2 separate regions of the Homo sapiens genome follow, and region 2 is linked to region 1. The links come from fine-mapping of genetic effects on gene expression. A gene starts in region 1. The other region holds a variant in brackets. All regions are shown on one strand. Distances are between the middles of the regions.

The links. PIP is the estimated chance that this variant, and not a neighbour inherited with it, causes the effect.
Region 2: its variant is fine-mapped to the expression of LONRF2 in follicular helper T cells (Schmiedel 2018, PIP 0.95).

What each region holds. Positions count from the first base shown.
Region 1 is chr2:100,309,447-100,325,883 of GRCh38, forward strand. LONRF2 (LON peptidase N-terminal domain and ring finger 2) reads right to left here and starts at 13,055. Exons shown (of 12, transcript NM_198461.4): 1 at 11,969-13,055. The coding sequence starts at 12,647.
Region 2 is chr2:100,284,563-100,300,999 of GRCh38, forward strand. It overlaps LONRF2 (LON peptidase N-terminal domain and ring finger 2), which reads right to left. Exons shown (of 12, transcript NM_198461.4): 4 at 16,082-16,225; 5 at 15,155-15,356; 6 at 14,664-14,757; 7 at 14,274-14,388; 8 at 10,870-10,991; 9 at 9,667-9,825; 10 at 5,696-5,858; 11 at 2,352-2,501. Among named protein-coding and RNA genes, the nearest start is that of LONRF2, 30 kb to the right of the region's middle. RefSeq lists an enhancer at 6,369-7,009. The variant CTT/C (reference allele first, on the strand shown) is at 4,868.

The DNA of each region.
Region 1 (16,437 bases):
GAAAACAGGAAGAAGATTAACAAGACTTGAAAAAGCACCAAGAAAAACAGACTGCCACTGAGTATTCCTACACACACACGAGCTACATCATCTCCAATAATAAATTCAGCAACTGCTGAATCCTCTCACTGCTATAACTAGGTATTTTTAGAAGAGATTTAAAATAATTTTTATGAAAGTATGCAAGGAAATTCATGTTTAAGAAACAGAAAAGTAAAACATAATTTTTTTTCTTTTTTTTTCAGACATCGAGTCTCGCTCTGTCACCCAGGCTGAAGTGCAATGGCATGATCTTGGCTCACTGCAACCTCTGCCTCCTGGGTTCAAGCAATTCTCCTGCCTCAGCCTCCCCAGTAGCTGGGATTACAGGTATGTGCCACCACGCCCGGCTAATTTTTGTATCTTTAGTAGAGATGGGGTTTCACCATGTTGGCCAGGCTGGTGTCAAACTCCCGACCTCAGGTGATCCACCCACCTCGGCCTCCCAAAGTGCTGGGATTACAGGTGTGAGCCACCATGCCTGGCCCATAATTTGTTTTTCTACACAACTTGGTAGATGTTGATTTGTCCCCATAATTGTACCTACAGTATATTCTCTTAAGGAGGGAAAGGAAAAAAAAACTCCTTTCTCTGCATTCCTCAACAGCAGAGGTCCTGATAACAACTCACATGCTGCCACAGACTTAAGTCCAGCTACACAGAAGCCAAGACTGGCCTCTCTTTGAACTGACTTGCAGTCTACGAAGTATTGACTTGGCAGGGTCCCATGGAAAAGGCTGGAAGCCAGACCTCAGAAAGGCAGAACCATCACAGCCATTTTCCATACTGTGGGGCCTGGCTCACTCTACCTTTGCCCACCTACGATCCTTGTAGGAGGGCTACAGCTATGCATTTTAGTTCAACCACAAATTTTCTGAGCTCCTAAGATGTGTTCTCATCCCTCTACCTAATGTACGTTTTCAGTTTCCTCCAAAACCTTGACCTTGATTCTTTTCAAACTACCCACTTGGTGCTTTCCAAATGCCACTAGCCTCCTTTTAGTTTATGTAGGTAACTGAGCAAGCATACACCGAAGAACTTACACACAAAGATATTACATCAAGACATGGTGAAAAGTAACTACTTATAAATGTGTCATCACCACATATGTGTAATATAGAGAAAGTATAACAAGAAAAAAGTAGAAGGGGAAAGAAACAGCAAGAGTTAAACAATACAATTTTAATTATTAAGAGAGACATTGCTGGGTATGGATAACTGGCTAGAGCAGGTGGCAGAAACTTTTTTTCTGTAACAGGCCAGATAGTAACTATTTTAGGCTTTGCAGGCAAAGAGGCAAACTGAAGGATATCATATAGATACTTGCTTAACAAGAAGGAAAACAAATTTTGACAGATTTCTTATTGACGCAATTTAAAATATGGTAACAATAATTTAAGTACTTTTTTGTAATACAGATAAACTAATGAGAAGAATGGAATTCTTGTTTGGGGAATAACATTTTTCTTAAGTTTCCAAGTTAGTGTTTCCTATCATCAAAACAACTGAAAATATTCATCTGTTAATTATGATCTAACATGAGATTTTATGTATTTCATCTTTGAAAATGCACATAGTAACTGTGAAAGTGCTGGCATCAATTCATATGATTTTAAATTGAGCATTTTAATTGCTGGGAAGACATTATAGAATTCTATTAGATTCTCCTCACGGTATCTGCCTTTTTAGCATGTTATTAGATTATTTCCAACTAAAAGATTGGTGAAAATGCCTCAATCACACAGTTAAATGCATTTTGAAATATACAATTCTCCTTTGGAGATTTCCAAAAATCCAAAGGAGATTTGGGGAAAAAAATGTAATACTTACTATAATGCTGATTTTTTTCCACATCTTCCAAAGGAGATTTGGAAAAAAAAATTTTGGAAAAAAAAAATGTGCTCCTGGAAGTATAGTTTTTTAGGCTTGGGTTATGCCTGCTGCAAACCTGTGTGAGAATGGAGATCTCATATCCTGTTTCCACTTGGCTACAGTTTCTTATTAGTCCAATCTGCCAATGGATTCTCTTGAATATTTTAAACAAGAATGTCATGTGCAATTCACTCCTTTTCATTCTAGTATTTATACTCCTATTTCCTCATGCTCTCATATTGCAATAATAGTGACAGCATTTTCTCTTATTCTTGAATTTAAAAAGCATGTGTCTAATGTTTTAACATAAAATATGTTTGTTGTAAGTTTCTGAGAGAAAATATTTATCAAGTTAGGTGATTTCTCTCCCATTCCTAGTTTTCTGTAAGGACTTTATAACAAGTAGGTGTTGAATTTTATAGACTGCTTTCAGCATCTGAGAGATTACATATAGTTATCTCCTTCAACCTGATATGGTGAATTACTCTGAAAGATTTGTCTAGTACCGAATTATCCTTATGGTCCTAGTATAAGCTCTTCTTGGTCTTAACTCCTATTACACTGCTGGACTCAAAATACTAAGAAATTTAATTAGGATTTTGACATCTATATACATATGTAAGACTAGCCTACACATTTTTTTTTCTTGTGCAAGCTTTACCTGATTGTGGTGTCAAGATTATACTAACCTTATTAAATGAGATGAAAATCTTCCCACATTTTTCTATGATCTGAAATAAGATGGAAATTAGTCACTGAAAGCTGTAAGGACTTTCTTGACCTTAGCGCCTTTTCAGCAGAAGAGAATCCCTGAGGAGCATCTCAATTTTTTTGAAGGCTTTTACTTCTTCATGGATAAATATTGATAATTTGTATTTTCCTTAAAATTGTCCTTTTTATATAAGTTTTAAAATCTTTTATAAATATCCTTTTATATCCGCAATGATGCTTCTTTATTCCTTATGGTATTTATGCCTTGCTTTTTCTTGAACACATTTATCAAATATTTGTCCCTTAATGGCCTTGGCAATGAATCAGTTTCTCACCTGTTAACTAACTCAATTTTTTTCTGTTTTACTAATATCTTGTTCATTATTCCTTTGCTTATACTATCTTTGTGTTAGCTTAATTAATCCTGATAAAGTTTCTAGTGTTAAAAATACATTTCATTTACATTTATTTTTAATCATTCTTTTCTAATGAATACATTTAAGTCTCTACTCCTCACATTCTAAAGGGTGCTTTAACTGAACTCCAAATTTCATAAAATTCACTTCCCATCTACACTTGATCTTAGCCAAAAGGCCAAGAAACAATCACTTCTCATCTCGACACTGAATGAATCACTGTTTTCTTTGTTGACGTCCACCATTTGGTGATACATTTGTGAGGACAGCACTTCACAATTTAGTCTTTTAAAACACATAAAATAAATGCTTACACATTTTCTAAGGATTAAACCTTAGGCTCAACAAAACTAAAGGAGTTCTCCAAGGATCCCTCAAAACTAAGTGGAAGAGGAAGTGCAAATTATTAAAAGTCTTTGTGTAGAGAAAACATATGGAAGAAAAATGTACATATGTACTTTCCAAAGAATTGATGCAACATTTCAGTAGGTTCACCAATTAACCCCTCTATGGGGAAAAGTCATAAGAGGGCAGCCTAAGACCCAGGCTTTGAGAGGAAAAGAAGAGATGTCTACCACAACTGTGTTTAGGGTCGACCAAAGGCTGTTTTCCAACAGCAACCCAGAGCCACTGTTGTACTAGGAGCTAGGGTTACTGCTATAAAATCTATCAAATGTGTGCAGTGGTGAGAAATGGAGGATTACATGTTATTTTACACAAGTTAAATGAGCCAGGCGTGGTGGCTCACGCCTGTAATCCCAACACTTTGGGAGGCCGAGGTGGGCGGATCACTTGAGGTCAGAAGTTTGAGACCAGCCTGGCCAATATGGCGAGACCCCATCTCTACTAAAAGTAAAAAAATTAGTCAGGTGTGGTGGAACATGCCTGTAATTCCAGCTACTTGGGAGGCTGAGGCATGAGAATTGCTTGAACCTGGGAGGTGGAGGTTGCAGTGAGCCAAGACTGTCCCACTGCACTCTAGTCTGGGTGACAGAGTGAGACCCAGTTTCAAATAAATAAATAAACAAACAAATGGACACATAAAGCAATAAAAACTGGGTAGTGTTCTCTATGAAAAGAAAGAATAAGTGGCAATACTCCTCAAAGCCTATTTATTCAAATTGATGGAAGACTGTAATTACAGAGTCAAGTCCACAAATCTTAGGTGTATATCTCAACCTTTGCATGTGTACCCGTGCCATCATCATGTAGTTCATTCCCAGGGCCTAAGAAGGTTCCCTTGTGCACTATCCCACTCAGTGTGCCCCTCCTAAAGGTAACCACCATTCTCACCTCTGTCACTTTGGATTACTTTATCCTGTTTTCTAACTTCTATAAATGGATATTTATAAATGGAATGTACTTTTTTGTATCTGACTTCTCACTAAATTATCATTCTGTGAGATTCATTCTTATTGTTATATGTCTCAGTAATATTTTTAAATTAATATTTTAAAAAATTTAAAAATTGCTGTGTAATATTACACTGTATGACTTGATTTATTTACTCATTCTACTAGTGATGAACAATTGAACTGTTCCCCAAATGTTTCTGGCATATATAAATAAAGCTGCAATGAACATTCCTGTACACATATTTTGATGGACATAAGCATTCATTTTTATCTAGTATATACTCAAAAGTAGAAATGCCACATCAGAGGTTGTACGAGTTTAGCTCTAGCAGGTGCTAACAAACACATTTCTTAAGTTGTTGTACAAACTTATGCTTCCATCAGTAATTTAAGAGTTCCAATTGCTGCAAATAAAAACTAAGTATTGCCAGTTCTTTTCATTTCAGCTACTCTGGTGGGGATGTACTAACTTACTTTCATTTTAATTTGCATTTGAGCACTAATTATGTTGTGCAGTCTTTTAGATGTTAATTGCTCACTTTGAGATCTAGTTTTTAACTCTTTGCCTATTACGTAGTTTCAGCTAAAGTTGTTTCTATCAATGGTGTTAAGTGAGTACTTACTGTGTTTAGACAGATTGGCTTTTTCTTTTTGAATCATAGGCATTATTTATTCTGCATTAGAGGTCTCAGTAAGATATTTGTATACTCATCCCCTTCTCACTTTTTTGGGGGCCTCTGAGGAACAGAAGTTTTATTGTTATGCTTTTTGTGTCTTATTTAAGAAACAACTGCCTACCCCAAGTCCTTGAAAACAGTCTCCTATGACTCCTAGATACTTAATTGTAATTTTGTTATATGATGTGAGATAGGTATTCAGGTTTATTTTTTTCCATATAAAAAAGCAACTGACTCTTTTTTCCCCATTGAATTTTTCCCCATTGAATTCCATTAGCATCTTTCAGAAAATCAAGAGACTGTATATGTGAGAGTCAGTTTCAATGTGTCTATTTTTAAGCCAATACAATGCTGTCCTAATTACTGCAGCATTATAGTAAGTATTGGAATCTGCCAGTGTAAATCCTCCAGCTTTGTTGTTTTTCTTCACTGTTGCCTTGGCCATTCATCAATTTCCACCAAAAACACTGGCTAGGATTTTCTCTGAGATTGCACTGAATTTACCATTCAATCAGCAGAGAACTGACGTCTTGCCAATACTGAGTTTTGCAATCCATGAAAAAAAATGATATATCCATCCATTTAAGTCTGCTTTAATTTCTCTCAGAAATGTTTCATGTTTTCAGTGTATTGAAATGAAATTTTCAGTGTAGAGGTATTAAACATCTTTCAGCTATTTCAGGATTTATTCCAAGGAATTTGTTTACATAAATTGTTTAAAGTTTTTTTCCTATTTGTTTTTTCTAAGTATATAGTTATGTTTGATAACCTCTATATTGACCTTGTAGTCAGCAATCTGGATAAATCATTTATAATTTCTAATAGTTCCTACATTCTTCTGGAGTTTCTATGTATGCCAGGTCATCTACAAATAATGACAGTTTTTTGTTTTATCTTTTATTTTTCCAATCTTAATACATAGCTATCTAGAATCTCCAGTGAAATGCTGAGTGGCAGTGAGAATAAAACAGTGTTACCTTCTCATTCAATGGGAAAACATTATTTCATCATTAATTATGATAGCTGCTATCTCATTTTTGTAGACTTTTAAAAAATTAAGAAAGTTCCTTTTTATTCGTAGTTTCCTGAGAGATGCATCATATCATTTTTCTTTTTTCTGTAAAGATGGTGAATTACATTGCTTGATTTTCCAGGATTAAACAAAACTTAACCTGCTTGCTACTGATGTGATATTCTTTAAGGGTATCAATGGATTCAGTTTGCTAATATTTTATTTAGGATTTTTGCAACTATATTCGTAAGAAACATTGGGCTGTATTTTTCCTGTCTTGTTACTGATTTTGGCTCCTTTATTTCCTTCTTTGTACTCTCTTTGGATTCTATTTGCTTTTCTTTTCCTAGCATCTTGAAATGGAAGCCTAAAGATCACTGACTATCAGCTGTTCTTTGGTAGTATGGGCATTTAAAACAGTAAGTTTCCCTCTAAGCACTGTTGCATTGCATCCCACAGTGTTTGATATCTGTATTTTCATTATCATTCAGGCAAAATAGAAAATTTTCTGGCCGGGTGCGGTGGCTCACACCTGTAATCCCAGCACTTTGGGAGGCAGAGGCGGGCAGATCACGAGGTCAGAGATCGAGAGCATCCTGGCTAACACAGTGAAACCCTGTCTCTACTAAAAATACAAAAAATTAGCCAGGCGTTGTGGCAGGTGCCTGTAGTCCCAGCTACTGGGGAGGCTGAGGCAGGAGAATGATGTGAACCTGGGAGGCAGAGCTTGCAGCGTGCTGAGATCGTGCCACTGCACTCCAGCCTGGGCAACAGAGCGAGACTCCATCTCAAAAAAAAAAAAAAAAAAAAGAAAGAAAATTTTCTAATAATTATTAGAAATTCTAATAATTCTAATAATTATTAGATAATTAGAAAATTTTCTACTTTATGTTGTGATTCATTTTACCCATCATTATATAAAAATATATTGCTTAATTTCAAAATATCTGAAGATATTCTATTTATGTGCTATTTAATTTTAGTTTAAGTCCACAGTGTTTAAAGAACATATACAGTCTGGTTTCAATCTTTTAATATTTATTACGACTTCTTTCATGGCCTAATCCAGGAGTTGGCAAACACAACCACAGGCCAACTCCAACGCTCTGCCTATGGTCATGGGAGCCTAAATGGCTATGTTTTTGCAGTAGTTGTATGTAGTGACACATATTAATTAAATCTAAGTGCTGAAGTATGTTGTATCTATATCCTTACTTATTTTGCAATCCTTACTTTATCAGTTACTAAAAGTTTTGTTCAACATCTCCAATTATTTCCCCTTTTGCTTTTGTCTCCTTTTGTTCTCTCCATATGTGTGTGTGTACACTTGTTGTTAGGTGCATAAAAATTTAGGCATATTATTACACATTTTTTTTCTGTTGAACTGGCCCATTCATCATAAATGTCTTTATTTCTTCTGATATTCCTTGCCTTAAAGAATACTTTATCTGATAGTCACTTTGCCATATCAGGCTTTTGTTTGTCAGTCTTTGTTGCCATCCTACTAATTTTAACCTTTTTTTGTGTTCTTACACCTAAAGTTTACCTCGTGTGTAAACAGCATGTAGCTATACTTCACTTAATCCAATCTGCCAACATTTAGTTTTTAAATGGGAAATTTAGGTCTTCACATTTAATGTAAATTAAATCCCCATTTTTCTATTTCTTTTCTAGTTGTCCCACTTATTCTCTCCTTCTCTATTCTTCCCTCCCATTTTCTTTTGGATTAATCCAGTATTACTTTACTATTCCACTATAGCTTTTTTTTAATTTTACCTTCCTATTGGTGGTTACCCAAGACAACAGAATATGCAAACCTGATTTAGCAGTCTACTTTAAATTGGTACTGTTACTACCTCCAAAACAGTGTACAAACCATACAACAATTTAACTGTATTTACCCATTCTGGCTTTGTCCTGTTGCCATATCTTTCACTTTTATGTATGTTACAAATACCACAAGACATTATTATTGTTATTTGAAATAGTCAATATTGTCTCATATTGTTACACCTTCTAGCACTCTTTACTCTGTGCATTAGTTTCACGCTTCCATATGGATACGTTTCCTTTAGCCTGAAGACTTTCCCTCAGTATATCATGAAATGCAATTCTGATGGTAATAAAATCCTTTAGCTTGAGTTATTTCTTTGGTTTAAAGCACCTTGATTTTGTGAAAAATATTTTCAGGTAAAGAATTCCAGCTAGGTTTTTTTTTTCTTTCAGCACTTTAAAGACATTATTCCATTAGCTTCTAGCTTCAATAATTTTGTCTAAAAGTCAACTGTCAGTCTTCTATGATTCCTTCGAAGGAAATATGTCCTGTCTTCTCTAAATGCATTTAAATTCTCTTTATCTTTGATTTTCAGGAACTTGACTATAATGTACTTGGATGGGTTTTGTGTGTATGTTTGTGTGTGCACTTGTGTCCACCCTGTTGGGCTTAGTGAACTTTTTGATTCAGTGATTTAAAGTTTCTCATCAGATTTGGAAAATTCTCAATTACTTTTTTCTTTAAATATTTCTCTTGCCCTTCCCCTCTCTCTTCTTCCAGGATTCCAATTTCATCGATGTTGGAACTTTTGTCTGTGTCTCACATAACTCCCATGCTCTCTTTTAGTCTTCTTCTGTGATTCAGTTTGGATATTTTCTGTTAACTTGCTTCTGAGTTTTCTCATTCAGATTTCTGATGTGTGCCATCTGGTTTGTAACAAATCTAATTCTCAACTTCAGACATTGTATTTTGAATTTCCAGGATACCCACTTGGTTCTTTTTTATGGACAATTGTCTTCTGAATGCTTTATATTTTCATACATTTATTTACCTCTTTCAACATACGTACTAGTTATTTTAAATTCCACTCATAACTTATCGGCCAAAAGTAGTCACATGGCTCCACCTAATCACAAGTGGAGCGGGAAGTGCAATCCTACCTTGCCTGGGGAAGGTATAGAGATAGACCAGCACTAATGACTACCACACTTCGCTAAGGTCACATAATAAATAAGCATCAGACATCAGGTGTGGTGGCTCATGTCTATAATCCCAGCACTTTGGGAGGCTGAGGCGGGCAGATCACTTGACTACAGGAGTTGGAGATCAGCCCGGACAACATAGTGAAACACGTCTCTACTAAACACACACACAAAAAAAATACGAGGCATGGTGGTGCATGCCTGTAATCCCAGTTACCTGAGAGGCTGAGGCACGAGAATCACCCTTGAACCCAGGAGGCAGAGGTTGCAGTGACCGATATCATGTCACTGCAGTCCAGCCTGGGTGACAGAGCGAGACCTTGTCTCAAAAAAAAAAAAAGAAAAGGCCAGGCATGGTGGCTTACACCTGATATCCCAGCACTTTGGGAGGCTGAGGCGGGCGGATCACAAGGTCAGGAGATTGAGACCATCCTGGCCAACATGGTGAAACCCTGTCTCTACTAAAAATACAAAAATTAGCTGGGCATGGTAGTGCGTGCCTGTAATCCCAGCTACTTGGGAGGCTGAGGCAGGAGAATTGCTTGAACCAGGGAGTCGGAGGTTGTAGAGCCACGCCACTACACTTCAGCCTGGTGACAGAGCAAGACTCCGTCTTAAAAAAAAAAAAAAAAGTCAGAGCTTGGATCTAAACACAGGTATTTCTGATTCCAAACATCTGTGAACTTTTTTTTTAACTATATCAAAACCTCTTTAAAAGGGCTAATTTATTTTGAAATTAAATGTTTTCATAAAATTTTAAGCTAATCTTTGAATAGAAAAATGAATACATTCTATATAAGTTCTCATATGAATTTACTGAAATAGCCTATTTTAAAAACGTTTAAATTAGGTCTAATATATATACAGAAAAGCTAAAAATATAAGTATATAGTGCAATGAACTATTGCAAAGTGAACACACTTGTGTATCCATCCCCTAAATCATGAAACAGAACATCACCACTACCCCACAGATCCCTCTCATACTTCCTCACAATCACTATTCCCTTTTCATCCCCCCAAGGTAACCATTGTCCTTACTTCTAACATCCTACAGTAATTTTGTCTGTTTGGGCTTACAGATAAATAGGATCATATAGTAAAAATGCTTGAGTCTGGCTTCTTCCACTTAACATTATGTTTGTGAGATTTGTCCACATTGTAGTTTGTAACTGTAGTTGATTTATTTTCTTTCTGTATAGTATGCTATGAAAACATAATCATATATTCACCCCTTCTGCTCTTACTGGACATTTGGGTTGTGTGCACTTTTGGGGTATCTCTAACAATGACATACACTCTTGTATCTAATTGCACATTCTTTTGGGGGCACATATGCATATACCTCTTTGAAACTATTTGGCCAAGGACAGGCTTAACATCTGTAGATACTACCAAATATTTTTCAGGGGCATAATTTGCAGTCCCATTAGCAGCATATAAATATCACAGTTTTCATTTTTCTACATCTTCTCCAACATCTAAATACAGATGAAGTATTTCTGATGAAAATTTGATGTTGGAATTGGGTAGTGCAGTAAATGCAAAATATATAACGAATTTCAAAGGCTTAGTTTAAAAAAGTAAAATCTCAATTATTTTTTAAAATTGAAGGCATGTTGAAATAATATTTTGGATGTATAGGGTTAAAAATTGCTAAAATAAATTTCACCTGCTTTTTTCACCCTTTTAATGTAGCTACAAGAAAATCCCAAATTATGTGTGGCTTACACAATAGTTCTAATTGGATAGTGCTGCTCTAACACCATCAATACCTAAATTAGTAGAAAACTAAAAAATATGCCTGTTAAAGTATGGATATGTTGGTTGCAAAAACTACAGAATACTCGTTAGAAAAGCTGAGTTAAGTGCTCTATTCCAGCAGAGAATATCCCAATTTAGATACAGATATTGAACACTTGTTCAATATTTGGATCTTTTTTTTTGCAAGACAAAATTGAATGCTAGTCACTTTATAATTTGTGCCTTCTAAAAGGGAAAACCTTAATCCTAAGTTTAAAATAAAATGTGCACTGACTACAGCATGGTAGTAGATTATTTTAGTAACAAGAGATTCAACAAGTCTTCTCGGCTAGTGCTTTAAATCGTATATGCCCTATTATAAAACCGGTGAAACCAGAAAGCAAACCGTCCTCCTCACACTGCCCAAAACAACTGCCAATAGAGCGCATACTCATATGTCAAAGCCAAAACGATGACAGAAGTTTGGTCTTCCTTTCAGCTAAATAGTGTTAACAGGTGGTGGCTGGGTGAAGGCAGGAGAGTGCCTGTTGCTGGCCTTAGGCCTCAGATAAATAAGGAAATGACTGAATGAACAATTTAAAACTACACACACTAGTCAGTGTAACTATCTAGTAAGTTAAATACGCCATGACATCTAATGATGGCCTCTGAGACAGAGAGCAGGCTAGAGCCGGAGCGTTTGACGTGATTACAGCAGAGTGGAGGCGGTTCCTTCCTGGCTATATTAGCTGAAACCCAAAGCAAATCTTGCCCCAGCACAAGGCACCCCTTTCTGCGCCTGTAGTGTGTCAGCTATGTGCATTTTCCTTCAGGATGAGCAAAAATATTTCGTCATCCTCCCCGCTCCTCAACAGCGCAGAAGATGCCGAAAAGCAATTACAGGACCTTACAGAGCTGCTCCGGGGGCCGCGGGAAACTTACCAGCATCCTGGAAAAGACAAAACCAGTGGGGTGCACTTGGCCTCTCCTGGCTGCAGGGTGTGGCCGCCCCCACCTTTCACCTTCCCATCCTTAGGAAGCAAAGTGACCCCTAAGCCTAGACAAAGCTCTCGAAAGCCCAAAGCCTCGGGCCCACCGGCCAGCTCCCCACCCCGCTGCTGGGCCGGACAGGTGTAGGGGAGGCGGACCCGCCCCGCAGCCGACTCACCCAGCTCCAGGGCCTGGTCGCACCTGAGCAGCGCGGCCTCCGGCTGCTGCTGGCGCTGCAGGCTCCGCGCCTGGCCTGCCAGCCTGCGCAGCCGGCACTCGGCCGGGAAGCACTTCTCCAGCAGGCCGCTCAGCACCACGTTCACGCGCCGCACCTGCGGCCGCGCGGGCCCTGGCTCCACGCAGCGCTTGCAGACTGTGAGCCCGCAGGGCAGCGTCACCGGCTTATGCAGCAGCCGCCGGCAGCGCGGGCAGCCGAGCAGGTCGCGGGGCGCGCGGGGCTCCGGGGCCGGCCCTCCCTCGCCGGGCGCCTCGGGCTCGCCGCCCGGGTTCTCCGCGGACAGCGGCCGGTCGCGCAGGCCCACGGCGCGCACCAGGCCGCCCGCCAGCTCTTCCAGCTCCTCCGGCCGCAGCGCCCCGAGCCGCGCGGCGCCGCGGAACGCGCCCAGGGCTTCGGGGAGGCGGCCGGCGCGGGCCAGCGCGTCCCCCAGCCTCAGGCACAGGCCGCGGTCCGGCTGCGCCAGCCCGGCTAGCATGGAGCGAAAGAGCTCGGCTGCCATCTCGTAGTCGCCCGCGCGGAAGGCCTCGTCGCCCTCCTCTAAGCGCTGGGCGATCGGCTCCGCGCGGTCGCAGCCAGGACACTGGGGCGGCGGCGGCGGCGGGACCGGCTCGGGGCTCATCACCGCGGGGCTGCGACGACGCGGGTCCGGAGCGAAGGCGCGGAGCAGGGAGGATGCGCTGCTGCTGGGAACTGGCCGGCGGGAGCGCGGTCTCAGCCCTCGCCAGCAGCCACGCGCGTCTGGGGGCGGCGCGCTGCGAGCGGCTGAGACCGCGGGCGGGGGCGGGCGCCTGGCTTGGGCAGCGTCCTCAGCGCGGTGTGGGCGGCGAGCCCCGCAGGGCTGCAATCGTTCCGGGGTGGGGGCCGGGACAGGCACCGCGGGCGCAATCTGAGCCCCTGCCCACGCGCAGCGGCCTCTCAGTCCCGCCGGCTTAGGTAACCCAGGTCGCTGCGGTAACGCAGTGACCGCGCTCCAGGTCCGCGTCTCTTGCGATGCTTCCCCCACTCGCCTGAGGGCTCCTGCGCGACTGCGCGCGCGTCCTCTGCCTGCCGCCTCCCCGCAGAGGTGCCGGGGCCCTGGGAGCAGGTGGCCTTGGCCGCGGGCTGCTGGCGCGCCGGCACCGCGGCACCTGCTCTTCCCCAGAGGCCTGGCCGCCCCCACAACCTGTGGCTCCGCTTAAGCAAGAACCCAGGAAAAGTCACCAAACGCATCACGCATCTCTAGCTTCGACTTAGGAAATTGTCCTAAATGACTGGGGAGGCTGAAGTGGGCACCCAGAGGCCCCGCCTCAGCGAGCTTCTTCTCTTAACTCTAGGCTGAGGCCTTTGAGAACTCATTTTAACAGAGAACGTGGAGGGCCAAGAGAACCAGATACCAGGAGGAGGAGGGATTCGAGAAGTGGACAATTGTATTGTGCCCTTGATTAGGAAGCAGAAATAGAATTAGAAATAGAATTCTAATTAATAGAATTAGAATAGAAATAGAAAGGGTGCCCTAGTATGGAGTACTGCAGACATAAGTTGCTGGGGAGAGGGAGCTAAACGCTCCGTTGGTGTACAAGCAAGGTTTAAATTAAAATCCTCTGTGCGTATTAACCGGGTTCATAATTTCTCCTATATAGCCTATGTATTTCTCCTATGTAGCCTGCTCCCTTCTTCCTGTCGTCACAGTATCTGTTTTATCCTGTGTATTTGAATACAATAAAATGCATTACAATATTCTAGAATTCATACTACTGTTCATATTTCAAGAATAAATTTTTTTAAAAAATTGGAGAGGTTTTTCTACATCTAAAACTGCTGGCTAAAGAAAATATACAATACCTCGACCACATCTGGCTTTGGGAAAGGAGAAATGCCTCATTAAGTGAGAGAACATTTTAGACCAGTTCCTAAAAGGGAAAAAGGGGCAATTTTTGGCCAGCCCTCTAGTTCTACAATAAACAAATGCAGAGTACCCACCTCCTTTTCCATGAAGGATTTCCCCCAGCTGTCTACCTAACTTAATTGATAACAGTGTACTGTTTGGGTCTCTTTTTCATTACTGAATTATTTCAAATTCACTTTTTCAATCACTGTTTGGATTTTTATCTGCTTTCTTTATAGAATAACAATTCACTTATATTTGAGGGTCATTTATCCATCAAATTCACAACCAACAATCAGGAAGCAATGGGGAAAAAGCTTCAGAGCACAGACCATACAGTAAAGATTGTGAAACCTTATGATCTCAGATCCTATTTGTTCTTATTTTAGACAAATATCTAGCAAGAGAACAGAAAGAAGCTTGCCGGAGGTATGCCTGCTGAGAGCCAGAAGTGTTTAAAGCAAAAATGTTAGTGTGTTGTGAGGTTTATAACACATAGAAATAAAATATATCACAAATATAACACAAAGGCAGGTAGAGGAGAAATGGCAGGATACTGTTGTAAGGTTCTAATGCTATATGTGAAATGGTATAATGTCACTTTAAGAAAGACTGTAATGAGTTAAGGATGTGTCCTCTAACCCTAAAGCAACCTCCTAAATAACACAAAGAGCTATAGTTTAAAAGCCTATAGAGATGAAATGAAATTGTTAAAAAAAACTCTATTAATCCAAAAGAAGGCATAAAAAGAGAGGAAGGAAACAATTAGATAAAACAAATAGAGAACAAATAGCAAGATGGCAGGTTTAAACCCAATTATATCGGTTAATGTTCATTAAATATTGTCTAAATACCATAATTAAAAGGCAAAGATTGTCAAAAGGAAGACCCAGATATATGCTGCCTACCAAAAAAGAACTTTTAAATATGAAAATACAAATAAGGTAAAGGTAAAAGGATGGAAAAAGATGTTCTAGTTAACTCTAAGCAAAATAAATCTAGAGTGACTATATTGATAGCTGACAAAGTCTATTACATAGCCAAGAACATTGCTAGGAGAAAGGACAGCCATTTCATAATGATAAAGGTGTTAGTTGGTCAAGAGGACATAATAGTCCTAACCGCGTGTGTTCCCAATAACAGAGCTTTCAAATATTTGAAGCAAAAACTGATAGAACTGTAAGGTGAAATAGGTAAATTAATAATTATAGTTGGATATTTAAATATCCCTTTTTCACCATAAAAAGAACAAGATCATGTCCTTTGTAAGGACATGGATGGAGCTGGAAGCCGTTATCCTCAGCAAACCAACACAGGAACAGAAAACCAGATGCTGCATATTCTCACTTATGAGTGGGAACTGAACAATGAGAACACATGGACACAGGGAGGGGAACAACACACACTGGGGCCTGTCGGCGGTGGGACCGAGGAAGGGAGAGCATGAAGAAAAATAAGTAATTCATGTGGGGCTTAAAACCTAGGTGATGGTTTGATAGGTGCAGTAAACCACCATGGCACACGTTTACCTATGTAACAAACCTTCACATCCTGCACGTGTACCCCAGAACTTAAAAATAAAACACCCCTCTTTCAACAATTAATACAAGTATACTGAAAATCAGTGAGGCTATAGAAGACTTGAGCAATTCTACAAACCAACTCAATCTGATTGATGTTTATAGAACACTCCACCCAACAATAGCAGAATACACATTCTTTCCAAGTGCACATGGGACATTTACCGATATAGAACATCTTAGAGCCATAAAACAAATCCCAATTTAAAAGTATTCCTTCTAGGGCACTGATACATCAATAAATTGGATCAAATTGAGGACTTCTGCTGTTTTAAAGACACTGCTAAGACATGCTACACACTAGGAGAAAATATTTGCCGATCACATAGCTGATAAAGTACGAACCAAAAATATATAAAGAAATCCAAGAACTCAATAAGAAAATACAGAACTGGATTAAAAAGTGAGTGGAAGATTTGAACAGTCATTTCATTACAGAAGACATATTGATGGCAAATAAGATGCTCAGCATTATGAGCCACTGGGGAAATGCAAATGAAACCCCAAGCAGTTAGTACTGCACACCTAGTGGAATGTCTGTGATTAAAAAGGCTGACCATGCTGAGTGCTGGCAAATACAGGGCATATGCAGAACTCTCACACATTGTCAGTGGGAGTGTACCATGGTGCAGCCACTTTGGACTACAGTTTCTTAAAATGTTAACTGTATACTTATCATATTAACCACCCATTCCACTTCTAGGTATTTATCCAAAAGAAATAAAAGCATATGTCCATTCAAACACTTCTACATGAACCTTCATAGCAGCTTTATTTGTAACAGCCCCAAGCTAGAAATAATTCAAATGTCTTTCAACGGGTGAATGAACAAATTATGATTTCTCTACACAATTGAAAACTACTCAGAAATAAAAAGGAATGAACTATTAATGTATCAAATAACATGTATGAAATTCAAAATAATTATGCTGAGTGAAATAATACAGCAAGATAGAGTACGTATG
Region 2 (16,437 bases), 25 kb before region 1:
GCTCCACCAACAGACACGTGAGCAAGAATTAAATGCCACCTTGTATTTTAGGGCTAATTCACAATTCATTCAGCTCTCAAAATACATAGTTTACTTTTATGGTACACATTTAAAGGTGGGGGAACTCACAAAAGGAAGAGCCTGCAAAGAGAAGCATCTTCCATGGGGAGATTCTATGAATTAGTTGCTTCTGTTCTCTCAAGCTTTCAGTTAAGAGTATATACCAGTCAGAGGAGAATACTATCACTTTAACCTTCACTTTCCAATGTTCTGTGCTATTATTTTTTATGTCTTAAGCATGCCATATAAAGCATAATATTATAAAGGCTAAAAGTATGTGTACAAGTTTGAGTGACATACTCAATGTGGCAAATGAGTGTATGTATGAAACATATATATGTATGCATGTCATATGCAAGAGTTATCATAAATTATATATATAAGAATTATTATGCCACCAAATAACCTTTATTTCACATAATCAAACAAAGCACTTCTAGACTAAGTGCTAGGCAAAAGCCGATCATAAACTCGTTCTCAATATTCTTAGTACTGGAACCAAGATATCCAGGCCTTTTTGTTTCCAGGGTCTAGGATTCTTCACTCTATTCCTTCTCCAAAAATGTGCAGGATGCCGATAAGAGCTGGGAGGGTGAACTCTGGAGTCACCTTAGTTTAGGGTGAGGTAGATTATGCTGGAGGACTAGGAATAGCACTGTGGCCAAAGCTCACCAGGGGTAGCCCAAGTCACTGTGAGGAAGACATCAACCTGCCCTTCAGAGGTAGAAAGGCACAGATGGAGAAAACAACCTTTTATACAGATTCACACTCTTTTCCCTGCCTCATCTCACAGAGAAAGAAAAAAACTGAGTAGCACGCTTAATGGGAAGGACCTCATATAAAAATTGATGTATTACCTAAAATCCCTCTGTAGTCATGAGAAAAATGGTCCCCCATATGGTACCTTATATGGCAGAGGGAATTGGAGGATGTGATTCAGTTAAGGACTTTGGGATGGGGGGATTATCCTGATGGGCCCAATGTGTTCATATAGGGTCCTGTCTGGGCTGTGGTCAGAGGGACATGTGGCTTTGGAAGAACGGTCGGAGAGAAGCAACATTGCTGGCTCTGATGGAGGAAGGAAGCCGAGGAATGCCGCCAGCCTCTACAAGCTGCAGAGACAAGGAAACAGACTCTCCCCCACAACCTCCAAAGAGAAACGCATGCTGCCATCACCCTGATCATAGTCTGGCCTGCAGAACCAGGAGTGAAAGATAATACATATGTGTTGTTTTAAGCCACCACGTTCGTGAAATTTCTTAACAGCAGTAGTAGGAAGCTAATATACCCGCCAAGTAGAGATTGATTAATTTGGTTAATAAACAACAACTCCTAGGAAAAAGAATGACTCATATCCTAATGCAAGTCAGTGTAACCACCATGCTTTCTGAATCTGAGTTCCAGGATACTGCAGAACAAAGGCTTATGCAAAAAGGGCAAGCCAGGAAGGACTTAATGGCAATTTCTGGCAGTTAAAGCATTTTTCTGTGTTTGGAAAAAAAAAGAATTCAGGCAGGGGGTAAAAGATAGAAGCTCCAAGAGACAGAAAAAAAAAGTTAAAATGGATGGGAAAAGACCTTTCACATCACCCTAAACCAGCTGAGAGCCAATCCCCCTCCCCTACTGTCTTTGACAGCTGAGCATCCATGTACAGGTGGGAGGTATACACTCTCAGGCACAATCTTAAACCAGCCCAGCCTGGCTCTCCCATCTAATGCAGAGGAGAGGCCCACCTGAGCTTAGAAATGCTCCACAAACCTAAGCTCATTCATTGCTTAAAGAACCAGCTTCACCAAAAGTACTTGTAGGGAGCACCAGAGAAAGCCCATGACAGCTGGGCAGCAGGGTACTTAGAGGACAAGGAAGTCACGCTACTAATGTCACAAGAATGATGGGATTTTTCTCTTCACTTATTCAACATCTCTATACCAGGTGCAAGGCAATGCTATGCGCCAAACGTGGAATGTTCATGCCAATACAATAAAGTTACTACTTAAATTTTAAGATGTGAGTGAAAGAAGCAAAAGGCTACAAAAGCTGACAGCCAAGCAGAATAAACTGATTGTTGTTAGAAAAGAAATTATGTTCTGTTAGAGAGCCTTTGTTGTTTTGCTTCACAAGTCATGTGCTACCACAGTAGGTGCTCCTTTGGGCTGTTAGTAGATGAACTGGTTCATAAGCAACCACATTGGGGTAACCAGCATCATACTGCCAAGCTCTCCACCAGAATGATGGCTCAGCACACTACAGCAGGAAGTAACAGAATTATAAAGGAAAAAGGGAGGGCATACCTGAGGCTCAGGTTCTCTGTCTGGCATTACCCCAAAATGACTTAAAATTTGTTCTTTCATGCGATCCTGGAGAGACGCGAACCAGGAAACAGACTGTTGATGCACAGAATCGTGGAGAGCGGCAAGTTCTTCATACTCTGGACCCTCCACCTGATCAGGGAAAGAGGCACAGCTGTGTGAACCATTCACAGTAATGCACGTAACACAGTCAGCGACCTCTGCACCTCCACTAAGTGGATTTGTGGCAGTTAGCATTTTAATAATTCATCAGTTTCACAAAAATGGTACATGCTCAATATAGAAATCTGCATTTTTTGCATAGTTGAAATCTATCAATTGTATCCTGATTTTTCTCTTAATACCATAATATAAGCACATTTCCTGTAATTTTGAATAATGTTCAATGGCTGCATGCAATTATATATTTGAGATACATGCCAATTTACTTAACTATTCACGTAAGTTATTTAGAATATTCTAGCTTTTTTATTTTTAAAAATAACACAATAATATAAACATTTATGGAAAAGTTGTTTTGTTTTGTTTTGCTTTTTTGACAAGGGAGGGAGGTATGGTTTCCTCAGTGTAGTTTCCTAGAGACCTTGACAGAATTACCAAGTCAAAGGGTGACATTTTAAAAATTGTATTCCATATCACCAAACTATATTCCTAAAGGCACGACAGGGCAAGACTACACTCATTACATTGGCCTGGGCTGATGGACTCCAGCTTGTGGTCGGCCACAGCACCTTAGACTGACCAAGCTTGGCCTCTGGTCCCTATGTCACTATCACATCTGTCATTTAAATTACGCCTCAGTCCTGTTCAGGAACACCTGGTAGAGGAGGAAGAGCATGGGACTGGGAATCACGGGGCCAGGGTTTGGTCTGGCTTCATCACCAACTCTCATGTGTGAATCTAGCCAGTCTCACAGCCTCGTTAGGGCAGAGTTTTCTCATCTGCATAATAGGAATAAACCATGAAGGTCCTTTCCTGTTACAAAATTCCAGTACCTACAAAAACTACGGTGTGCTGAGAAATTATAATATAATGCATATACCACCCTCAATTTGATTTATACAAATCAAATATTCATATGTGATAGAGGATTTTCTTATAAAAATAAGCTAAAATTATTTCATGTTGTAGCTATTTAAGCCCCCATTTAAAATAAGCGCATACACTATTAAAAGCTGTCATCTACAACAACGGTCAATAAACCCTGCCGTCAGGTCTATCCATCCCACAGAGAGACCCTGAGAATTATCACTTTCAGCTGTAGCTTTGAAACCCAGCTTTCTGGTCCAGCCTGGGAGCTGGGCTCCCTGCTCTGCTCCCATGCACTGGGATGACCAGAAACAGCAGCTGGAGGAGGCACAGAGACAGTGTCCTGGGTGTGACTCCATTCACAAATCCTAAGTGTACACCACTGCCCCCAAAATGACTTCCAGTGTGATGTGGGGTGGCTACGTACCCTCACTTCCACAATTCCAAATGTCAACCAAAGAATTTAAAAGAGGGATACAATAATTCCAAGGATTTCCTCCTTTTAAGTATTTTAAAATTTCTTGCTGCAGTATAATTTACAGACCAAAAAGTGCATAGATCTTGTTGAGCTCAAAGAGTTTTCTCAACTGTATACACCAGTCTGACCATCACCCAAAACCAGATAGACATTTCCACTACTTAGAAAGATTCTTCACCACTCCCTCCAGTCAATTACAAAGCCAACCCCACAAGCCTTTTCTGACTTCTGTCCCCAGACTCTAGTTTTGCCTGTTCCTGGAAGTATACAGATGAAGCCACGCGGTATGTGTTCGTCCTGTGTCTGGCTTCTCTCACTTAGCATAATGTCTGTGAGAGTCATCCATATTGTTTCATGCACGAGTGGTTCATTTCTTTTTATTGACAGGTAGTATTCCATTGCATGAATGGACCACAATGTGTTTACTGACTCAAGTGTGATCAGCACCTGGGCTGTTCCTGGTTTGGGGCTATAATGGAGTAAGACTGTTATGGACATCCTTGTGTAAGTCTGTTGGAGAATCTCTCAAAACATTTTGCTAATTTGTCAAATTATATGTCCTGATATTTCTATTAGACACATGAAAAAATTCTTAAGGGTTAATAAATTCAAGTCTTTTATATTTAGCTTTGGGAGGTATTTTTTAAGTTGTAGATTTTGTCACATTCTGAATTAATACCAACCTAGAGAACAGGGACTGACAGACTGCTGTTCATGAGTCAAACCGTGCTCACCACCATGTTTCCGGAAGTCACATTTAACGGAAACCAGTCATGCTCATGCCTTTACACATTGTCTATGGCTGCTTTTGCACTACAAGGGCAGAACTGGGTAGCTTCGACAGAGACCACATGGCCTCTGGAGTCTAAAGTACTTATTAGCCGGCCCTTTACAGAAAAAGTTTGCCAGCTCCAGGGCTACAGCATCAAATACAAATCAAAAGCCTATTTTGCAATGCGCAGGTTTACATGTTGCATAAGTACAATAAGGT[CTT/C]TTTTTTTTTTTTTTTTTTTTTGAGATGGAGTCTTGCTCTGTCGCCCAGGCTGGAGTGCAGTGGCACGATCTCAGCTCACTGCAACCTTCAGCTCCCAGGTTCAAGCAATTCTCCTGCCTCAGCCTCCCAAGTAGCTGGGACTACAGGTGCCCGCCACCACACATGGTTAATTTTTTTATATTTTTAATAGAGCCAGGGTTTCACCGTATTAGCCAGGATGGTCTCAATCTCCTGACCTCGTGACCTGCCCACCTTGGCCTCCCAAAGTGCTGGGATTACAGGCGTGAGCCACCATGCCTGGCCAGATCATTTTTTTAAAAGGAGATTTCTGTACCAGCTCCCAACTCAGGTAAAAATCCACTGAGAAAATAAATAACTGCTGAAGGCAGGGGCTCATGCCTGTAGTCACAGCACTTTGGGGCTACTACACTTTGGTTGAGGTGGGAGGACTGCTTGAGCCCAGGAGTTTGAGACCAGCCTGGGAAACACAGGGAGACTCTGTTTCAACGACAAACAAAATTTAAATTAGCCATGTGTGGTGGTGTGCACCTACAGTCCCAGCTACTCGGGAGGCTAAAGCAGGAGGATCGTTTGAGCCTGGGAGGTCAAGGCTGCAGTGGGCCAAGATCATGCTGCTGCACTCTAGCCTGCACGACAGAACAAGACCTTGACTCAAAAATAAACAAATAGATAAATAAATAACTTAAGTGATGAATTAAGGACTTAAGTAATATTGTCAGTACAAGTTTGACAAAGCTTTTCCACAATGCAAAGGGAAGCGAGAGGACCGACTGCTATAAAATACACCAGTATGATAAGCCTTACCTTTTCATCTTCAAGATATTCAATGTCCGCTGTGTTATAGCCATCTCTGTGGCGGTGGCTTAGCACTCGGAACCGACTGATGCCAATCGCGTCTACAACAGAACTTCCATCAGGAAACGTTCTCACGTCCTTAATCTCCAGCATGCATCCATACTCTGAAAGCCTGAAAAGACAGTTAGGAGAAATGACTGTGATTTTTAAAATGCAGGGGGCCTTCTTTTTCCCTGGATGAGAGTTTACTTTTAAAAGGAATACAAAGCCACACAAAACAGTGTCTCCACATCAGACCAGCAAGGTTATTGTCGCTAAGAGACACGTGCACATGGTCGCTTCTGTTAGATGTTAAATATAGTGGTGATGGTGGCTGCAGGGGAAGGGCTCCAGGTGAGACAGGACTTGTGCCTTAGCGGTTCCAACGGGCTAGTGTTTTGGGAAGGACCCGAGAGATGGGAAGAGATGAAATCTCAAATGTGGCTCCTCAGCCACCTTGGCGGGGCACCATCAGGACTGCCCAGCTGGTGCCACGCACACACTCGGCTTTCCAAAGCTCTCCCCAGCTCTTACCCACACTCCGATTGTAACTATCACCCTTATCCTAGTGATATTCTCATGCTACCACGTGCCAAGCAACACACGGAGCAGTTTATAATACATATGAATTCAAGCCCACACTTAAAATTTGATTCATCAAAAGTCAACAAAGTGAAAAAACAAGCTATGAGTTCCATGTGCACTGAGAATATAGAACACTAAAAAGAATGTGAAAAACGACAAGGAAAACCAGATAAACCACAAAACATATGTCTCTTGAACCCACCAGAGGGTGGAGATTGCTCAGGGTAACCAAACAAAGATCCCACAGGGAGAGAGTAGGCAGAACCCAGGAAGAGACACAAAAGTGTGTAGGAAGCATTCAGCTATTTTTTTTTTAAACAAATTGCCAATGACCTTGTGTGGGCTGGCACCAGAGTGCAGGTCTGGAGAGCTGCACTCACAAAGGGAGTTTGCATCACACACAGGATCCTGTCCACAGATAAGAGCCTCCTTGATGAGTCATGCCCTGCAGTGAGGCAGGCTTGGAGGAGCTGACGTTTATCTGGAGGCCTCTGCTGGTGCTGGTTGCTGGGGCAGCAAGTCCTCCACCTTCAAAGGCACTCCGCTCCTCCTCCCTCCTGCCTTCGCCCACAAGGTCTTCACCTCATTCCAATTCTGCCAGCTCTGCCCTCCCCAACCAAAGTGCCGTGGAAAGCAGTCCCCGGCCACTGCCTTCATCTCCTTGCCTCCCCCTCACTCCTCCATATCCTACCGTTCCATTAAAATGACTCCAAAAGAAGTCAGAGATGCCCTCTGAATTGCTCAAATCACTTGACAGGCTCCTGTCTGACCTCCCTAAGGCACGGCCCTGCAGACTGTTGCTGAGCTAATGCTTCTGCTCTCCTGAACCCTCTCTAACCAGCCCGGCCCTTCACAGCCCCTACCTCTGCATGTCCCTCCTGCTCCATGCTGCCCAGGGTGGTATTCTAGGCTATGTCTATTCTCATTCCAAAGCTCTCCCCAGCTCTTACCCACACTCTGACTGTAACTATCACCCGTAACCTAGTGATGTTCTCACGCTACCACGTGCCAAGCACCACACACAGCAGTTTATAATATATACGAATTCAAGCCCACAAAACACGGAGGCTCAGAGGAATTAACTTCTCTAAGGCCACAGGGAGATTTAGAGCCAAAATGAGAACTCATGGCAGTGTGATTCTAAAGTTCTCATGGTGAGCAGCTTTACTACACGTCCCCCAAACTAAAGAGCAGCGATGATTCAAACTGCCACCTGGATGCCTCTACTTATATACTTAATAAAACTCTCTCTTCCTGGTATCTAACAGGATGATCTCATTCATAGCATGGTGAAACTGGAGGCGCCCTGAAGATTCCTCTTCAAGGGAGGACTGAATGCCCCAGCAACCAGCAGAGGCCTCCAGACAAATGTCAGCTCCTCCAAGCCTGCCTTGCTGCAGGGCATGACTCATCAAGGAGCCTCTTATCTGTGGACAGGAGCCTGTGTGTGATGCAAACTCCCTTCGTGAGTGCAGCTCTCCAGACCTGCACTCTGATGCCAGCCCACACAAGGTCATTAGCAATTTGTTTAAAAAAAGAAAAATAGCTGAATTCTTCCTACACACTTTTATGTCTCTTCCTGGGCTCTGCCTACTCTCTCCCTGTGGGATCTTGTTTGGTTACCCTGAGCAACCTTCACTCTCTGATGGCTTCAAGAAATACATGTTCTGTGGTTTATCTGTTTTTTCTTGTTTTTCTTGTTGTTTGGATGGGAATAACATTCTTTTCAGTGTTCTATATTCTCAGTGCACGTGGAACTCTTATAGCTTATTTTTTCTCTTTGCTGACTTTAATCAAATTTTCATATATTCTAATTTACTAATCTCTCCCTCTGTTATGTATTCTCAGCACCTTGTATAAAAAATCTTTCCCCACTCCTAATTATAAAGGCAGTCCCCAATATTTCCTCTTAAATGTTTTTATATTTTGTTTTTCACATTTCACATTAGGAATGCAAATGTGTTATTTTTTTATTTATGGCATAAGGTAAAGCTTTTTCCCCCCCTCTCATTTGGACCACCCACTAATTTTCTGGGCACCCTTTACTGAGTAGTTTGTCTTTTCTCATACAATTGTCTATAAATTTGGCGTCCACATATGAGTGGACCTGTTTCGGATCTCTACATTATTGTGTCACTGGTCTACTTACTAAGGCTTGTAAACTTGATATTACAGGAATGTTCTCCTGTTTGTTCAGCCAGATCTGGGCTTAGTCTTTTGCTTTTCTACACGGATTCTAAAATCAGCTTGAGCAAGTCCATGAAGAAGCTTCCTGGAGATGCTGACAGGAATTACTCTGGATTTGTGGAACTGGATAGAGATGGCATCTCTACAGCATTGAGTCTGTGCACCAACGGACATGGCATTTCTCTCCTTTGATTCAGAACTTCTTATCTTTCAATAAAATTTCAGAATTTTCTCCATAAAGGTCCTACACATATTTTAAAAAGATCTGTCCCTAGATATTTATGGTGGAAAATTCTGAGTGGCCCTAAAAATGCAGTCTCCTCTTCTTCCTGGGCACGTAGGTGGACTATATTTGCCAGGCTCCTTTGCAGCAGGTGTGAACAGGAGGCAGCCCCCTTTCTCCAGAGTCCTTTAAGAGCATGTGCACCTCCTCCATAGCTAGCACTTGAATGCAGTGACCTCATCATGACTATGTAGGGCTGACAAGGCCCTAAGGGATGGGAGGGTCCTGAGTCCCCAAATCAGTCCACAGAGGGGAATGACCTGCTGGCTTGCAACACCCTCTCTGGACAAAGACGTGAAACGAGGGGAGGTGAAAACCAAGCTTAGTGTGTTTTTGTAAGACTGAAAATGATTTGGCTGTAGAGACAGAGAAAAAGCTTTGCGCAGGATATAGACATTTTTCTTTTTAAAATGTTTTTGTAGAGATGGGGTCTCCCTATGCTGCCTAGGTTGGTCTCCAACTCCTGGGCTCAAGCGATTCTCCCACCTAAGCCTTCCAAAGTGCTGGGATTACAAGCGTGAGCCACCAAGCCCAGCCGCAATTTTCCTAGACCTCAGAAGTTGGACTAGATTTGTTTGTATATAAATGGGGATAAAGAAAATTGCAGGCAGAGGGAAGCACAGAGGTGTGGAAGCATGAGCTGTCACAAGAGAAGGGCAAGTAGCATGGCAATGGACTAGTGGGTGTGATACTTGAAAGGAAGAGGTGGGCAGTGAGGCTAGAAAGAAGGGATGGGACTGCATTGTGGGCAGCCTTGAACTTGGACTTTGTTACGTAACGGGAGCCACTGGAGGTTTTCAAGCATCAGCCTAAATCATTCTGCAAGAAAAATGACAAACGATGCCCTTCATTAGGACCCTTTGAACCAAATGCTAACAGTTCTTACCCCGCGTGCTCAGCAGATAAACACATGCCAAACCGCTTGGTGCCAGTTTCCATGCATCTTCTTATCATAAGCCGATAGCGGGGCTCAAAAACGTGGAGTGGACATGGGACCGTGGGGAAGGCCATGGCACACACAAAGATGGGGACGTCTCTGGTCAGACTGCAGAGCAAGGGGACATGTTATCTCAGATGTATGAGCTGTTAGATCAGAGGGTGGTACTGGCCACCAAAACAGCAAAAGCCAGCCAACCTCAGTTCTCCCCTCTACAAAACAAAACCCTCAGGCTAAGAGGGACAAGAAAGCCAAGGACCATAGCATGTGAAAATTCTCTGCTCACCCAGGTTTCCTGACAAATCTGTCTTATTTAACTTGAGGAAAGAGAACATGCTGAATTATATTACTTTGCTTGGAAAAGTTATACCTTTTAAGCACTCTAAAAAAATTCTGATAAAAGCAAAAACTACATAGTAGTCAAAGGCAATGAGTTTTAGAAGAGTGGAAGAGTGATAAGATCGCTACTAAAATACAAAACTTTTACCATTTTAAAAGATGAAAACTGTCAAGCCTGCTGTGATTCGCAATCCTGGGTATTAGTTCTCATTCTCTCTACTTTTTAAAACTGTGCTTCACTTTACTCCACTTTGCAGACATTACATTAAAAATTTTTTGAGGTAAAATATACGTATACAATTTGCTATTCTTAAGTGTACAGTTCATCAGTAACAAATACATTTATATTATTTGCCTTTTATTTATTTTTAATATATAAATTATTTTTAATTATTTATAATAATTTTTTAATATAGAGGTGGGGTCTTGCTATGTTGGCCAGGTTGGTTTTGAACTCCTAAGCTCAGGCAATCCTCCTGCACTGGCCTCCCAAAATGCTAGGATTACAGGCATGAGCCACTGTGCCTAGCCTTCTTTGCTTTTTAAATCCTGAAAAATTCAGTATCACTTATTTACATACAAAAAGCAACTATACAATTTTGTTAAAACACTTTAAAAATATCTTATAAAAAAAGAAAACAAATTCTTATAACTGCTTGCAATTATGTTTCCAAAAATATTTTGCAATTAACATCCTTTTCCATTTACAGACCAAGAGAGTTCTCTGCCATGAAAAGAAAATCTGAGGTGAAGCTGAAGTTGACAAAGTTCAATCTGAACTTAAGACCAAGGACACACAACATGAGCACTTACTTTGACAGTTCTGACATTTCTTCATCATAAATTCTCTTCCTATCAGACAATTCATCCGGCAAATATCGAAATATTAATTCTTCGGCCAGAACAGTTATGTTAAAGTTTCTGCTTGCCAATAACTGTAACAAAAAAAAGTCAAATGATACTGTATGGTAATTGATTCTAAAGGACGAAGCTTCCGAGTGGAAAGGTGAACAAGGAGGTGGTGGGTGGGATCTCTGAGCAGGTAAGAAGGAAAAGGGATGGAGAGAGAGGCGGGCCAGCCTGTAACAAGAGCAGGGGCAGCCCCTCCACTGTGAGAAAAGGCCAGGAGGAGGCGTTCACCTGGATGAAGGATGAGGCAACTCAATCTTGACAGCATCTACATTTTCAACCAAGTGCCATGATGTTGGTGAGAGGGGAGGAAGTGAAGTAGGGCATGTTGGGAGAGGAGAGACTTTTGCAATGATCAGCTTGGAAAGTGAAGAACTGGAACTACTAGAGAAAGAATGTAAGAATGATTACTTATGTTTTGAGTCTAAGACTTAAAATTTTTCATTTAAACTGACACCAATCTTCCCAACATTATGTTTTTTTCTAGCTTTGTTGTATTACTTAGGATGCATGCAAAAGGCAAAGGTTGACTTTTTTTGGATTGAGAAAGAGAGAGAGGGACCATGGATTAAAGCGGGATGTGAAGGGAAGGTAGGAGACTGAACAAGAAAGTGCTGGGATCGGTGGGTGGAAGGGCCACAATGTGGCTGAACTACTACTCTGCGTGTGTGTGTGTGCGCGTGTGTATGTGTGCACACAGATTAGTAGTTTGGTAGGTTGCACTGTTTTATTGCAGGCATGTATACTAGCATATAGTAGCTCTTTTCACTGACATTCTGATGCACATCAGGGACCACTGCAGGTGCTTTATTAGTCCTGAAAACAGTATAATACTATAGTTGTTCTCTCCACTGCGCTCATAAAGCTGTGATTCAGAAAGGGTAAGGGGTCAGTGCTGAGCCACCATGGCATAGCGAGGACCCCAGGCCTGGCGGGCTTCAGGGCTCTGCTCTTTCCTTGGTGGCCTGCTGCATTTCTGGGCTTGGGATGGCTCCACGTATTTCCAACACACCATGGCTGGGTGAGTCCTTCGCATACTGCCAGGTTTCCTTGTGGTTGGTGTGAAACAAACTAAATGTATTGCTGTGATTGACTGAGAACCAGGAGTTCAAACTTTGGAAACGCCTATGTTTGAGAACCACCATCACAGGGTAACTGGTAGAGAAACAGGCTATCATCTCACTCACAAAACTGCTTCATAATTGTCATTATTAATGACATAGGTATTTAATAAATGGTTTATGATGTCCTTTTATTGAAGAGTAATACAATAAAACATGCTCTACTTGGCATGATGCTAGCCAAGGGTTCTGGAGATTCATATATAATTGATGATTCAGGTCCCTGGTAGTGCATGCAAAGTCATTTATGTGCATGATGTGACTCCCGCATTGAAGAAAGACAAAACTATAATTTTGGATTTTATTTCACTTTATAGCATTCTAATTTCTGGAACATTAGGAACCCATGTATAGTTTGCATGTAATCATTCATTCATTCATTCAACAAAGACTTCTAGAGTCTCTGGTGCATGTGCTAGTCCCTGGAAATACAGGGAAAACAGGTCATAGGAAGTCTCAGTACTTAAGCAGCTTCTATTCTTTTTTTTTTTTCTTTTTGAGACAGAGTCTCGCTCTGTCGCCCGGGCTGGAGTGCAGTGGCGCAATCTTGGCTCACTGCAAGCTCCGCCTCCCGGGTTCACGCCATTCTCCTGTCTCAGCCTCCCGAGCAGCTGGGACTACAGGTGCCCGCCACCATACCTGGCTAATTTTGTTTTTGTATTTTTTTTTTAGTAGAGACGGGGTTTCACCGTGTTAGCCGGGATGGTCTCTATCTCCCGCCCTTGTGACCCACCCGCCTCAGCCTCCCAAAGTGCTGGGATTACAGGCGTGAGCCACTGCACCCGGCCAAGCAGCTTCTATTCTAGTGACGACCTCCAGCTATCACTTCTTCACTCAGCCCCCTACAAGGCAGCATCGAAACAGAAGTGAGTAAGGTCTGTGTTGTAAACAGGGCTCACACATACATGCATTTTATTCTTGTAAGAACAGATGAGCCTGTTCTGGCCCAGGCAGGCACCAAAACAAGAGGCAGTGGGTCCGATGCATCTACTAGCAAGAAGAGACAGCAAATGCCCAGAGGAAAACTGCACAGGGGCCACCAAGGAAACAGCTCTGCAGACTCAGAGCACAGTCACCACTGTGACACACAGCGCACAGCACAATAATTGATGTTCACGAGAACTCTGAAGAATTTAAAAAGATTCAGTATGCATGCAATTTAATAAAGCAAGTATGTGCATACAATGTTTTAGAAAATGTTTTCAATTGTAACTAGTTATTTTAATGTTTTGGCAGTAAATTTTAAAGGTTATAATTATTTAAAACTTCACTTAAGTATAATATCTCATCTTATCACATCAGATTTAAAAAATAAATTTTACTGTACGTTTGTAAAAAGAAAAAAAAACTTTATCCTACTTAAAATGCATTCAATAAGTTTAATCTCTGGAAAGTAATTAAGGCAAATATTATCAGTCTCATTTAATGAATGCAAAACAAAGGAAGATACTCCCCACCCCCTTAAGATGTTATATGACTTGCTCCATAGAAAGTTCATGGCACTAATAGGACCACAGCCCAATACAGCTGATATGGATTCACTATTTCAGGAATTGATCAGAAGGTCTTCAGCTTTTAAATACTCTTCATTGTATTTACCATACCTAACGTAAATGGATTTAATAGTTTATATTGGGGCTAAATATCATTAAATAGCTTCCCCATGGAACCTGGATTTAATAGTTTATATTGGGGCTAAATATCATTAAATAGCTTCCCCATGGGACCTGAATTTTACTGGTTTTGATTTCAGACCAAAGACAATAATAACTGACAACTGTAAAAGCCCTAAAGGGACTCACCTGTGGTCAGAAATGATCAAGTCTTCAATCCTACGAAAAACTCTCAAGATGAAAAAGAGAATTCCTGGAGCACATTAAGTGCACCATGACAACGTCTCAACCATTTACAATGAACGTAATGTAGGGTTCATAATGTTAGCTATTTTCAATCTATCTCAACTAAAATTTCTACCTAAAAATGTCCTTAACATTTAGCAATTTCTGTATGTCAACCTTCCTTGTGTATTTCTTGATTCATCAAAGAGATGAGAAAAGACCTATCTTTGATTGGAGAAATCTCAGTTTCTTTAACAACTGGGTGGGGGAAGCAACACGAGACAGGGAGTAAGCGTCCACCAAGGGATGAGAGGAGGAGCTGTCCCGTCATTTCCTAAAGTGTACTTACTTCCGAAAGTTTGTCTTTGCACAAAGGACAGTGTGGGGCGTGGTCAAGGCAGCGCTCAAGGCATTTTAGGCAAAATGTGTGTCCACAGGGCGTAGTGACAGGTTCAAAGAGCAATCTGGAAGAAAATATCTGTTTTCAGCCAGAAATGTCCAGGACAGACTTTCAAATCATGGACTGGTTTTTGAAGGATTCCTTATGCAATCCCCTTTCTGTTCTAGAAATCACTTGCATGCACTTTCATTTTATATCTTATTAAATCTTTAGAAAATAAATCAATTATTACTGAGCTCTCCCTAGTTTCCGTGATAATAAAAAGCCCATTACACTTTGGTATACATTTCAGAAAGGCTGCAGTTTTAAAAGAGTTGCACGGATTCTGTACCATCCTACCTCATGCAGAGGGCACACTCAAAGTCAGTTACATCAAGCGAGAGCCCCTGACTTTCTTCTGTCTCAGAGTTTGGGCTCCTTTGAAGTGAGAGATCTGAATGCGAAAAAATTTAAAACGCTGTAATTAACACCTAAGCACCTGAACAACAGCATGCAAGAAATGTATTTTCTCTGGACCAAACGTGTTGTATCAATGTAACAAATCACACTGGGCAGAAATAGTTCCTGCCCAGTTAACAGCATACAGCAATAATTTATCTGGATGGTAAGCATGAATAAAATTTTAAATTATAGCTAAATTTTCTCTGCTATTTTTGACTATGAAGTCTTTGCAGTATAAAACATCTAAAATGCTCTATAATCTTAGAGCTGATATAATCATTTCATTACTAATATTAAATGTTGTAAAAATTTAAAAAATATATTGAATACTAGTTAACATTCTATCACTTTGGAGTCACAGAACTGCCTGATGAAAACAGTTCACTGACCTTTCTTGGGAATTTTTCCAGGGGCGTTCAGGTCAGGTGCATCCTCCACGTCATCCGGAAACTGTCTCTTTAAGCCAGCGCTGGGTGCTGTTGGAAGGATGCTTTCTAACGCCTTTTTATCCTCTTCAAAGTGTAGACCCAGTATAAAATACAAAACTGAAGAATTGGTATTTCCAAGCATATCAGATTTCTCAGATGAATTCTGGTTAAGTGGGAAAAAAAGGAATCCTGAGTATTAAAGAAATCATAGCATAAGAGAAAAAGAATGCAGAAGCCTGTACTAGAAATCTTTGGAAAAAAAAAGGGGGGGGCATACACTCTTCTTCATAATTGGTTTCATCTGTTAATTTCTAAGATGAGCTTTATTCTTTTCACAGTAAAATACAGGATAATTTCTTCCTGAGCCAGGGCAAGTGAAAAGTTATCTTCATATGCAATCTGTCTGTCTGTCTATCTATCTACACACACACACACATACACATACACACGTACACACATAAAATCATATATCATATTCAAATCATCCCTTTGCTTTATTTTTTTTTAAATTACACTTTAAGTTCTAGGGTACATGTGTACAACGTGCAGGTTTGTTACATATGTATACATGTGCCATGTTGGTGTGCTGCCCCCTTTAACTTGTCCCTTTGCTTTATTTTCTCCAAGCCAAAATAACTTCAAGTCTCCTGCCGTTTGGGGTGATTTGGTGGTGTTCTAAAGCTTCTTTCAATCTTTAATCATTTTCATTACTTCCATAGACTTCATGTAAAAGTTCCAACTCCCAGGTTGAGGAGCTACAACTGGTCTTGAGAAATATGTCTAACTAACATAATGCCATAATGTGTGAATAATCTGTAAACTGTTTAAAATGAAGCCATTATGTAAAGCTTAATCAAGAGAATCCTGACAAATGCATGCACGTCATACCTCCGAGCTCCCTGCATCACCTTCTTCCAGCAGAGCCTGGGCATTCATGTGGCTGTGACCCTGAGCCTTTAATCTGCTTTGGATGGAAGATGTTAAATTTTCATGCACATTTGCTGTAGCTGAAAACAGCACTTCACACATTACCTATAAAATTGCCAAGAAAAGAAAAAATATATATTTTAAAACACTTTTGTAAAAATATAGTATGTCTTATAGATTCAGAGGAAACTAAGAGGCCAAATAAGCCTAAAATGTTGAAAAGAATAATTTTAACTGCCAACCTTTTAAAATCCAAACATTTTTGAAACCAGAGTCAATATTTTAAGTTATTTTAGCTTCCAATCCCTTTCCATCTT